Regions from separate parts of the Homo sapiens genome. Here region 1 is linked to region 2. The links come from fine-mapping of genetic effects on gene expression. A gene starts in region 2. The other region holds a variant in brackets. All regions are shown on one strand. Distances are from middle to middle.

Region 1 (5,164 bases), 56 kb after region 2:
ACTGCTCTTCAGGGAGCGTTTCCCCTGGGGCTGTCACTCTAGCACCTCTGCTGCGTACCTGAGGATGACTGAGCCTTCCTGGCTGCCTCGACCGCGGGAGGCAGCTCCGTCTGTGTGTGCCGGGCTCCTCAGGGTCCTGATGCATCAGAAGCCCCAGAAAGCCAGAGGCCCGCGGCTCCCTCTCCCAACAACAGGCCTGGTTTAGGGCAGGTGGAAATAGGACGGGGGAGGAGCCGCCCCCTTTGCACCGTGGGCTCCTGGCCTGCACCGTGACCCGCACCTCCCCTGTCCCCGCGTCCCCTGTCTGCTGTTGGGTGTGTGCAGGCCTGCGCTGGGGGCCCCTCCCTCCTGGCCAGCACAGCCCAGCAAGGTGGAGGTGGCTGTGTCGTGCTCCTGTGGGGCTCTCCTTGGCATGTGCATGCCGCCGGTGGTGCTGGCCTTGGAGGGCTGGTGGGGCTGCATGCTGCCTATCTGCATCCGTGCATGCTTCGGACCCTGCTCCATGGGGGGCCCGCGACTCCATGCCACCCTCTCCCTGTGACTTTGCTGCTTGTGTGCTTCTGGGGGCGTTGGTGCTTGCGGGGAGACTGTTGGCAGCTCCAGAGAGGGAGACGGGCGTGTGGGCTGCCTGGGGCATGGCCTGCTGGGGCGCTAGCAGCTGTCCTGCGTGTCCGGAGCATCTATTCAGGGTGCTTCTGGCCGCAGGCTGGTCCCTCAGGGCAGGGGCTGAGGTCAGGCTGCTTGGGGACCAGAGGGGTTTGAAAGTGGGGGTGGGAGCCCAGGCCAGAGAACAACCCAGGGCAGGCCCTGTCCTGCTGCGAGCAGCCCCCACGGGAGGCCCCTTCATCCTCACGCTTCCTGGGCGTCGTTGGTCCGGACACCAGCTGGGCAGGGGTCTGGATGCTCCTCAGCCTCCTGTTTCCTGCGGGCACCGCACATCTGAATTTCACCATTGGGAGGGAGGGTGGCAGGCCGGGTGGGGATGGCGCGCTCTCAGGTGCTTCTTGAGCCTGCCCCGGCCCCGTAAGCCCCAAGCGTAGGTGCCACGGACGCCCCTCGCACACAGAGGGCAGCTCTGGCCGAGGGCTCCTCCCAGGTGGGTGGCGGCAGCTTTTCGCGTGCGCTTGTTCTTGGCTTGTGGCCGAGGGAGGGCCTGCGAGACCACGCGTGCTCCTGGCAGCTGAGGCAGGCTGGCGGGGTCGGGTGTCTGCAGCATGGAGCCTCACCAGCTGTGCTTGGAGGGTGCAGAGTTTGGGTCATGGTGGAGGTCCAGGGGAGGGAAGGACATGTCCAGGTCGCGCCACCCTCCTCTTCCTGGCAGAGCCTCCCTCGCAGATCTGAGGTGGGAGCGGAGCCCGAGACCCGGGACAGCAGGGCCGCGCCGAGGCCAGGGCAGGCTCCTTCCCGCCGGCTCTGTCTGGGGCAGTACACGTGGGCTGCGTCCCGGCGGCCCCTGGGGCTGTGCTGGGCATCGGGTCCAGCAGGGTGTGTCTGCCGCTGGCGGGGCTGTGGCTCCTTGTCGTGGTCAGCGGGGGGTCCCCCCTGAAAAATGGGAAGCAGACGTCGGGGCTGGGTCTTCTCTCCTGGGGCCTGTGGAATCCACGCCACTCCCTTCCTGCAACTCCCTGCGGACTGTGGGGCCTGACCCTTCCTGGCCCGCACGTCTGTGTGGCCGCCTGGGTATTTGACCCGTTCCCCTCCGGGGCCGCAGGTGGGAATCTGATGCCCATTCCTCAAGCTGTGCCTTTCCCACTGCAAGCCCTCAGCACCGGGCTCTGCCCAGAGACCAGCCAAGGGCAGCCCCGAAGCTACAGTTGGGCCGACCGGCTCTGTCCTCCACCCGGTGCTTTGCCAGCTGCCGTGAGAAAGGAGGTGGCTGCTTCTCTCTCTGGTGACTGGACCTGCCTCGGGTGGAAACGCAGAGAGAGGAATTGAGTCTTCCAGTGACTCCCACTTGCCCTGAGGCCTGCCTGAGCGGGGTCAGGAGGGGCCTATTCTTGCCTTTGAAATGGCTCGTGCGGTGGAGAAAGAGAGAACATTCCAGGAGTCCCGCTGAGCCTGTGCCCATGTGCTCCCCTGGCCCCCGTCCGGTTCTCCCCGACCACCTGTGCTTTTGTTGTTGGGATGGGGACCAGAGGCCGTTGGGACAGAGGCACCCACAGCACCAGGACTCTGAGCACCCCTGGCCCCCATGGGCACGGTGTGTTGGCCTCAGGCAGTGCAGGGGTGTGGACTCAGGACTGGGGTCCTGAGCGAGCCTGTACCATCGGCTCCTGACGTCCCCAAGCACGCGACGCCTCGGGACTCGGGGGATCTCGGCCACTCCGTCTCTGCTTCCCCGAGCGGGCACAACACCCAGGGGCTTCTTTCTTTCTCTCAGAGACGCCTGAGTGGGGACAGATGGTCTGCTGAGTGGGCACAGATGGTCTGGGCGGTCACCTGCTGCCTGGGGGATGGGGTGGGGAGGGGCAGCCAAGCGATCCGCGTGTCCAGGCCAGGCAGACGGGCGCGGTGGGCTCTCATGTCTGTGGCTGGTTATCTCTGTGCCGTCTGGTGGGCGTGTCTCTCTGGCTGTGGGTCTGGAGTCGGGGCTGATGGTGGCTGCTGACCGGGGCCTCAGTCCCTCGCTGTTGGCTGGGGAGCCGCCGTGGGATCAGGGAGCCCGTGAGGCACTGGGCTTCCTCTCTGAAGTGTGTCAGGGATCTGCGGGGCCTCCCCACCCGAAGGCTTGTTTCAGGCTCCAGCAAC[A/G]GTGCTCTGGGCCCTGCCCAGAACCACCCTGAGAAGTTCCGTGGCTGCTAAGCATGGCTGGGCATGAGCGGGTCCCCAGTTCGTGAGAGCCCCACTGTCCTCAAGGGAGCCAGGGGGTTCTGATGCTTTCCAGACCTCAGGAGGCCACATCTGCCTGGCGTCTCCCAACCACCAACCACAGTGAACCCTCCCCTCCCCTCACTGTCGCCCGGCGGACGCTGGAGTTGAAGAACTCGGGTGCAAACCCATCTCCACGGTCACCAAAAAACTCGGGGGCAAGGCAGGCCCAAGGACCCCCCGAGAGTATGGAGCTGGAGACCCAGCCAGACACAGCTGCAAATCCTGCTTCACGCCTCGCAGGCCGAGGGGGCCGGGCCACAGCGCTGTGGCTTTGGAGGCTGCCTCCCCCTGCCCTGGGGCAGGACTTGGATAGTGAGGCCCAGCTGGCGGAGGAGCCCCGTTATCCATTCCTTCCTTCCAGAAGCCGGAAGGAGCAGTTCTCTGACACGGACCTGGTGGGAGGGGAGCCTGACAGGGGAGGCCTGAGCCCTCCTGAAGCCCATCCCACCAGGCAGGCCCCCGGGGTGGGTGGAAAGGCCGGAGTGTGGCTGAACAAGGGTCCACCGCAGACTTGGCCCCCAATGTCCTTGTTGTCCCCTGGCCCCTCGACTCTGGGGCAGAAGGAGAGGGACAGGCCGTGGGAGGGGAGGAGGGAGGCTGCTTCCTGGGAGCAGTTACGGGTGTGAAAAGGCCACAGGGGAAACCACGGGCGGGGCCGGGGCAGACAGAGGTGCCCGAGGAAGAGCCACAGCCCCGGTGTTTGGGATGCCCGTTGCCCTGAGTGTCACTGGGTGAGGGGCTGGCAGGACAGTGTGAGGAAGGCTCCGGCACCTCGTGGTGGTAGCGGAAAGTGATTTAAGAGTCCACAGACATCAACTCTCCCCACATGGCCAACCTCTGGCCACGCCTGAGCCAGCCGGGGGAGCTTGCTGCCCACCCAGCCTCCCCTCCCTCCCTCCCGCCGGGTGCTCAGTGTCTGTGGCCTCCCCTCCCTCCCTCCCGCCGGGTGCTCGGTCCCCGTGGCCTCCCCTCCCTCCCTCCCGCCGGGTGCTCGGTCCCCGTGGCCTCCCCTCCCTCCCTCCCGCCGGGTGCTCGGCCCCGGTAGCCTCCCCCCCTCCCTCCCGCCGGGTGCTCGGTCCCCGTGGCCTCCCCTCCCTCCCTCCCACCGGGTGCTCGGTCCCCGTGGCCTCCCCTCCCTCCCTCCCGCCGGGTGCTCGGTCCCCGTGGCACCTGCTCTGAGCCACCCGTGTGGCTGGCTGTTCTTCAGACCTGTGTCTCCCTCCGGCGCATGGGCGGCGTCGGCCATGAGCAGACACGGCCTGTGTTCTTTGCAGAGTGACTTCTCTCCCTGTTTTTCTGTCTGTCTGTCGGTTCCCGTGGGAGCAGCCAGAAGGTCAGTTTGAAAGATCGTGTCTTCTCCAGCCCCCGAGGCGTGGCTGCCAAGGGGAAGGGGTCCCCGCAGGCCCAGACTGTGAGGCGGTCACCCAGCGCCGACCAGAGCCTCGAGGACAGCCCCAGCAAGGTGCCCAAGAGCTGGAGCTTCGGGGACCGCAGCCGGGCACGCCAGGCTTTCCGCATCAAGGGTGCCGCGTCACGGCAGAACTCAGAAGGTGGGTGTGGCCGCATCCTCTCCTGGTCCATCCTCTCCGGGGATGGATGTGGTGGCCACGCTACTGTGGCCACCCTGTGGCGTCGCAGCTGCTTTTGCTTGCTCTTGGAGTGGGAACCCCCTATCCTTTCTAAAATTGAGGTGAGACTTGTGCAACCTAAAATTAACTATTTAAAAGTGTAGGAATTCAGTGGCATGTAGCACGCTCACGGTGGAGTTGTCACCACCACCTCAGCCTAGTTCCAGAACATTCTCATCACCACAGAAGGAAACCATGACCCCATCAGTAGTCACCCCATTCCCCGCCTCAGCCCCAGCACCCGCTGCTCTTGGGCCGTGCGTGTCTGCGGCTCCCACGTGGGGCCGTTGGGTCTGGCTTCCTTCACTGAGCCTCAGATGTCAGGCCTGCACCTTCCGCCGTTAACATCTGTGCGTGGATGCGCCATGTTCTGTTCATCCATTGGCCAGAATGTCCTTTGACGCCCCATATCGGCCACTCCCTGTGGCCACAGCCTGCCGGGGAAGGTCCTGACTCGAGAGCAGCTGGGTGCAGATGGGTGGGTTTCCAGAAAAGCAGGTGCACCCGAGGGGCACCACAGGGAGCCTCGAGGGGCTCCCTGGCGCTCTGTCTAGCCGGTGTGCCCTGCAGGACCCCGGGAATAGGTCTCCCGGCCCCCTCGGCCCCTCACGGCCTGTCTCCTTCCCCCCAGAAGCAAGCCTCCCCGGAGAGGACATTGTGGATGACAA
Region 2 (5,501 bases):
GACTGTCTCCTCCGCTGGAGCTGGGCACCACGTACGTCTGAATTCTGCTCATCCTCTCTGGAGTCCTGTCGATGCGGTCTTGGCAAAGATTGTTTGAGCCTGAACGCTTTTCCCATCTATTTTTACATAAATGGAATTCCTCCTGCTTGGATGAAATTTACCCCAACTGGGCATTTTCACGACCCACTTTGCCTGGGCGCAGAGGAGGGGACAGGGGGCAGGCATGCGGGTAACCAGATTGCTGACAATGTAGCCCGTGGGTGTGCAAGACACAAAATTAAAAACATAAATGATTAATGAGCTAGCTCTTTGAAAGGACATCCTAAACAAAGGAGGAAGCAAGGATTTTCAAGCCTTGATGCAGGATTCACTTTCCAGAACCTTCCAAGGTGTGGCAAAGCTGCTGGAGCCAACGCCATTTGTAGACGGGAGAACCGCGAGCTGCAGGGTGCAAAGCTCCACCTGCATCCTGAGCCGGCCCCTCCAGCCCGGCATCCCCACGGGGGATGCCACTCTCGGCCACCCCCAGGAGGCTGTGAAGCCAGCCGATGGCTCCCCAAGACCTCAGCAGGGTTTTCCCCTTTTTTTTCTGAAAAATAAGATGAACAGGTTTGTCTCTCCCAATGTCCTGGACACCAGAGCACCTTAATCCTTGCTCCCATCTCAGCTCTGGTGCATCTGCTCAAACGGGAACTGGGGTCACTTTTCCTTCATCCTCTGTGGATCAGCCCTGACCTTGGGTCCCACTGGGCTCTGACATCAAACCTGAGATGACTGCTTGCCCAGGAGAGGTCACGTGTAGCCCGGGCACTGCCGAGGGGCACCGGATAGTCTGGGGCTTCCCCCCACAGGATGAGGGGCCCCAGCCCTGCAGGGTTTACATTTTGAGCTACGGCTGCTCCCTCGGGTCTTCTGGTGAGTGGGAAAGACCAGCGGCACCAGCCAGCGTGTGCAGGGAGATGCCACGGTGCTCTCTTCCTTCTGCATACTGAAGTCCTCTCCCTCCCCTGAAAGCACCAGGCTGGTGCCTCCTCCCTTAACAATCGAGAGAAACCGCAGCCGCTTGGGGCAAGCCCACTTCATGCTGGTAATCACAGCCAATGCGTGGGCACAGAGGCAGGGAGGCGGGGATCCAGAAAGTACCCCTGGATGTGCACAAGCTTGTGTAAGTTGCCGTCTATCCCCAACGTCCTGGATAACGTACAGGTTAGCATTCTGCCTGCACCGACCCTTCTGTATTCAGCCTAGTTAAAAACAAAACAACAACAACAAAAACAGGCCCCGTGGCCACTAGCTCTGGAAACCAAAGGGCAAACACAACTCAAGAGCTCACTCTGCACCAGGGTTAGGGCTGTTTTATGAGCAGGTCACCTGCGAGGACGGCGCCAGCGATTCAGCAGAGGGCCTTTCTCTGGGTAGAACCCATGGTGCCAGGCGAACGTGCAAACAGGCTGGATGTAGTCAGAGACGCACTCGAAGATGACACCCCTCCTGGATGTGCAGAGGAAGGCCCAGTGGCGGGGCACCTCACAGGGCGGGCAGCACTGAGCCGCAGGGGTCCCTTGGTCTCCCAGCAGCAGCTCCAGAGGGACCCCTCCCAGGACACATGGCTGCCGGCAGGGGGGAGGCCACCTCCGCGCACTTGCCCCCAAGGAAACACCGTCCCATCTGTGTCCAGGAGGCACAGATCTGCCTCCTTTGTCCCGAGGTGTGGCACTGGGCTTCCTGCTGGCCTGTCTGCTGCCCTGGGGCCACCCTCCAGTCCCTGCCCCTGCCACAGGCCCCTTCTGGGGTCTGCATAACTAAGTCCAGGCCCCTTGGGGGGCTTCAAGGCCCTCTAGGAGTGACTCTCTCCCATCCCCCACCCCATGGCCCTTGCTCCTCTTCTTGCCTCCCGGCCTCTGTGGCCACCCCCTTTCCCCTGGGCTGCTTTCCTTGCAGGGTGCCTCCAGCCTCCACAGACCCTCCCTGCACACACCCTGGGGTCTAGGGGGTCCTACTGCCTGGGCAACCCTGACACCGAGAGCATGAGGTCACCATGGGCTGAGCCCTAACAGAGTCTTGGGGAGAGCCCCTACCCCCATCCCTTCCCGGAGGCGTCCACTCCCAGGGCCCAGCTGAGAAGACTCCAGTCCTGCTCAGGCGGCTGGGCACCGCTCTGGGACCCCAGGAGCGCTGGGGCCACCAGGCAGGTCCACTTGGTTAGTACTACCGGACTCAAAGGTGACCGCAGGGTCAGTGTGCACATGGCCGGGGGATTGGGCAGGCTCAGCCCAGAGCTCTGGTCCCGCGGGCCTTGGTCCCTTCTGCCTCCCCCTCCTCTCCCCCTGCCCTCCCCTCCCCCTCCCCCACTCCCCCTCCTCTCCCCCCTCCCCTCCCCCTCCACTCCTGTCTCCCCCCTCCACTCCTGTCTCCCCTCTCCCCGTCCCCGCCACTCTCCTCCCCTCCCATTCCCCTCTCCTCCCCTCCCCCTCCCCTCCTGTCTCCCCTCTCCCCGTCCCCTCTCCCTCCCCTCCCCTCCCTTTCCCTCTTCTCTCCTCCCCTCTCCTCTCCTTCCCCCCTCCCCTCCCCTCCCCGTCCCTCCCTCTCCCCTCCCTTCCCCTCCCTCTCTTCTCCTCCCCTCTCCTTCGACTGGCGTCGCGGGGGTTAACGCGGGGCGGGGCGAGGCGGCGGGCGGAGCCGGCGCGGCCGCGGGCCAGGCGCCGAGGTGCGCGCGGAGCGAGGTGGCCGCAGCGTCTCCGCGCGCGGCCCAAGCCCGGCAGGAGTGCGGAACCGCCGCCTCGGCCATGCGGCTCCCGGCCGGGGGGCCTGGGCTGGGGCCCGCGCCGCCCCCCGCGCTCCGCCCCCGCTGAGCCTGAGCCCGACCCGGGGCGCCTCCCGCCAGGCACCATGGTGCAGAAGTCGCGCAACGGCGGCGTATACCCCGGCCCGAGCGGGGAGAAGAAGCTGAAGGTGGGCTTCGTGGGGCTGGACCCCGGCGCGCCCGACTCCACCCGGGACGGGGCGCTGCTGATCGCCGGCTCCGAGGCCCCCAAGCGCGGCAGCATCCTCAGCAAACCTCGCGCGGGCGGCGCGGGCGCCGGGAAGCCCCCCAAGCGCAACGCCTTCTACCGCAAGCTGCAGAATTTCCTCTACAACGTGCTGGAGCGGCCGCGCGGCTGGGCGTTCATCTACCACGCCTACGTGTGAGTGGCCGGCGGGGCCCCCGTGGCGACCCCCATGGCGACCCCCATCGGCGACCCCATCGGCGACCCCGGCCAGGCTGGCTGCGGCGGGTTTGGCTCCCTGCCCCTGGGTCTGGGTCCGGGGCCGGCGCTCCCCGGCGGGAGTGCTGGGCCGAGACCGGAGAGCGATTGTACAGCGCGCGGGCAGGAAGGATTCCGGGGTCGGGGCCGCTCAGGTCGGGGTGGGGGCTCCAGGCCCGCAGGACAGAGACGTGCGGCCGCCCCAGCCCCCTCCTCAGCCTGGGAGGCCCCTCCCCGCGGCCTCTGCGCCGAACAAAGGGCCGGCCGGGGAGGGACGGCGGCAGCGCTGGGTCTGGACTCTCCGGGACTCTCGGGGACCCGCGGGGCTGGGGCCGCCCGACCAAGCGAGGGCGGGGGGGAGGGGTCTGGCCTGTCCTCCGCCATCCTCCCGAGCCGCTCTCCCTCAGACTAGGGTGAGCTTCTGGGTTCCTGAGATGGGGGAGGGGCCCTCCCATGACCCCCCCACCCCAGCCCGGGCTGAGCGCAGCTGTCTGTCCTGCCCCCTCGGCGCCGACGCCCCTCCCTGGCCCCGCGAACCCCCTCAGCTCCTGCGCTCAGCTCCTGCGCTGTCCCATCTCTGCAGCCGCCGGCCGCCCCCGTGCACATCCCGGGCTCAGGACCCCTCCTTGGCAGAGCGAGGCCCGGGGGAGGGGCTGCGGCAGACCTGGGACCCCCAGCCCTGGGCCTGGAAGGGGCTGTCCCCTCTTCCCGGGCGAGGCTCAGGGAACGGCTGCCTCCTGGGGCAGGGCTGGCGGGGGGCGGCCGAAGCCTGCGTCCGTGTGCACCTGGGTGTTCGCATGTGGAATTGCACGGCCCGCTGCGTGTGCGGCCTGTGCGGCCGGTGTGCACAGCCTCCCCGCGCCAGGGCGCTTGCTCTCCCATCCCAGCTGAACAAGGGACCCGCTGAGCTCCGGGACCGGCCATTTTGTGTGAGAGGCATTTTGGGATGGGAGTGAGGGGCAGACTGGTCACAAGCTGGTCGGGCGCCCACCTGGGCCGAGAGGGGTGTGTGCCCCACGAGTGTGCCCCAGCCTGCGTGTGGCCTTGAGTGTGCCCTTAGCAGACCCTCCGTGGACTGTGATATGAGAGGGTTCTGGGGTAGGGAGAAGATCCCAGAGGGAAATGCCAGGCCGCTTACAGGGAGGGTGTCTCCGTGGAGGGCCCCTGGGCACCCAGCCTGGGACTCCCCAAGCAGAAGCTTCTCCGACCTCCTGGGTCCTGGAAGCCCTGTGGCCCCCAGGAGGTGAGTCTAGCTTTTCCAGTCCAGGGTTCATTCCCGAATCCCCAGATGAGCTTCTGTGTTCTCAGGAATGGCCTCCCCTGATGGCCCCCACCTGGCTGGGGGCCAAAGGGGCTCTTGGTGGGCCGGTACTGGTCAGCCAGGTCCCTGCCCAAGGTGACTCCCCGGAGGAGGGTAGGATAGAACCCACCCCCACAACCCTCCTGCCCTGACAGCCTGGCCAGCGCCCCGCTCTGCGTCTGACCCAGGGTTGGTTCTGCTTTGAGTCCATGATCCAAGGGCCCAGCGTGGCTGTTCCTGAGGTTTCCCGTTGGGTCAGCAGCTCTCCGCATGGCCGCCCCCTGCCTGGGCCTGCGTGGGTCAGCCCCTCTGTCTCTCCTTCCTGTCTCTGCCTCCTGAGAGCAGCAGTCCAGAACTGGGGCAAAGCATGGGGACACTTGCACATGTGGGGTCTGAGCCGTCTCTTCCTGACCACCCCCAGTCCGGACGGGCCCCCTCTAAGATAGAGCAGCAGCATGCGGGGGCTTCAGGCGAGACCCTCAACGTCTGAACAGCCCCGCCTTCCAGCCTGCACTAGGCCTCTCCTCAGCTCCTTTGCTGTGGGCACGGAGCTCCCTGAACCTCCCTGAGCTCCCAGGCTCTCCTCAGCTCCTTTGCTGTGGGCAGGGGTGGCTTGGACTCAGGGAGGCGGCCCCTTTGGGAGGGGGATTTTTTCTAAGCGGCGGGGCTGGAGAGCAGGGTTTCTGGTCCTGCCTCGGGTTGGACACTGGGGGCTGGTCTCAGAACCTCTGCAAACCTCAGTTTTCCGTCGGTAACGTCGGCACAGCTGCTTCTCAACCCAGGGCTTTGTGAACACCACTGCTGGGGGGCATCACACTCTTCCAGGCCGGCCCAGTGCCCTCTGTGAAAGGGGATGTGGCTCAGCACTGCTGGTGCAGCTCACCGCCCGGCTCCCAGACCCCTGGTGTGGTGTTTGCTGCTGTCCCCGTGGCCCAGCCCATCCTTGGAGTGCAGCC

Evidence for each region. PIP is the estimated chance that this variant, and not a neighbour inherited with it, causes the effect. A credible set is the group of variants that fine-mapping cannot tell apart.
Region 1: its variant is the best candidate, but not a certain one, in a credible set for the expression of KCNQ2 in cerebellum (GTEx, PIP 0.70).

Annotation. Positions count from the first base shown.
Region 1 is chr20:63,414,157-63,419,320 of GRCh38, reverse strand. It overlaps KCNQ2 (potassium voltage-gated channel subfamily Q member 2), which reads left to right. Exons shown (of 17, transcript NM_172107.4): 13 at 4,195-4,418; 14 at 5,128-5,164. Among named protein-coding and RNA genes, the nearest start is that of KCNQ2-AS1, 32 kb to the left of the region's middle. RefSeq lists an enhancer at 1,118-1,765. The variant A/G (reference allele first, on the strand shown) is at 2,749.
Region 2 is chr20:63,469,852-63,475,352 of GRCh38, reverse strand. It overlaps KCNQ2 (potassium voltage-gated channel subfamily Q member 2), which reads left to right and starts at 2,698. Exons shown (of 17, transcript NM_172107.4): 1 at 2,698-3,185. The coding sequence starts at 2,890. RefSeq lists an enhancer at 4,869-5,501.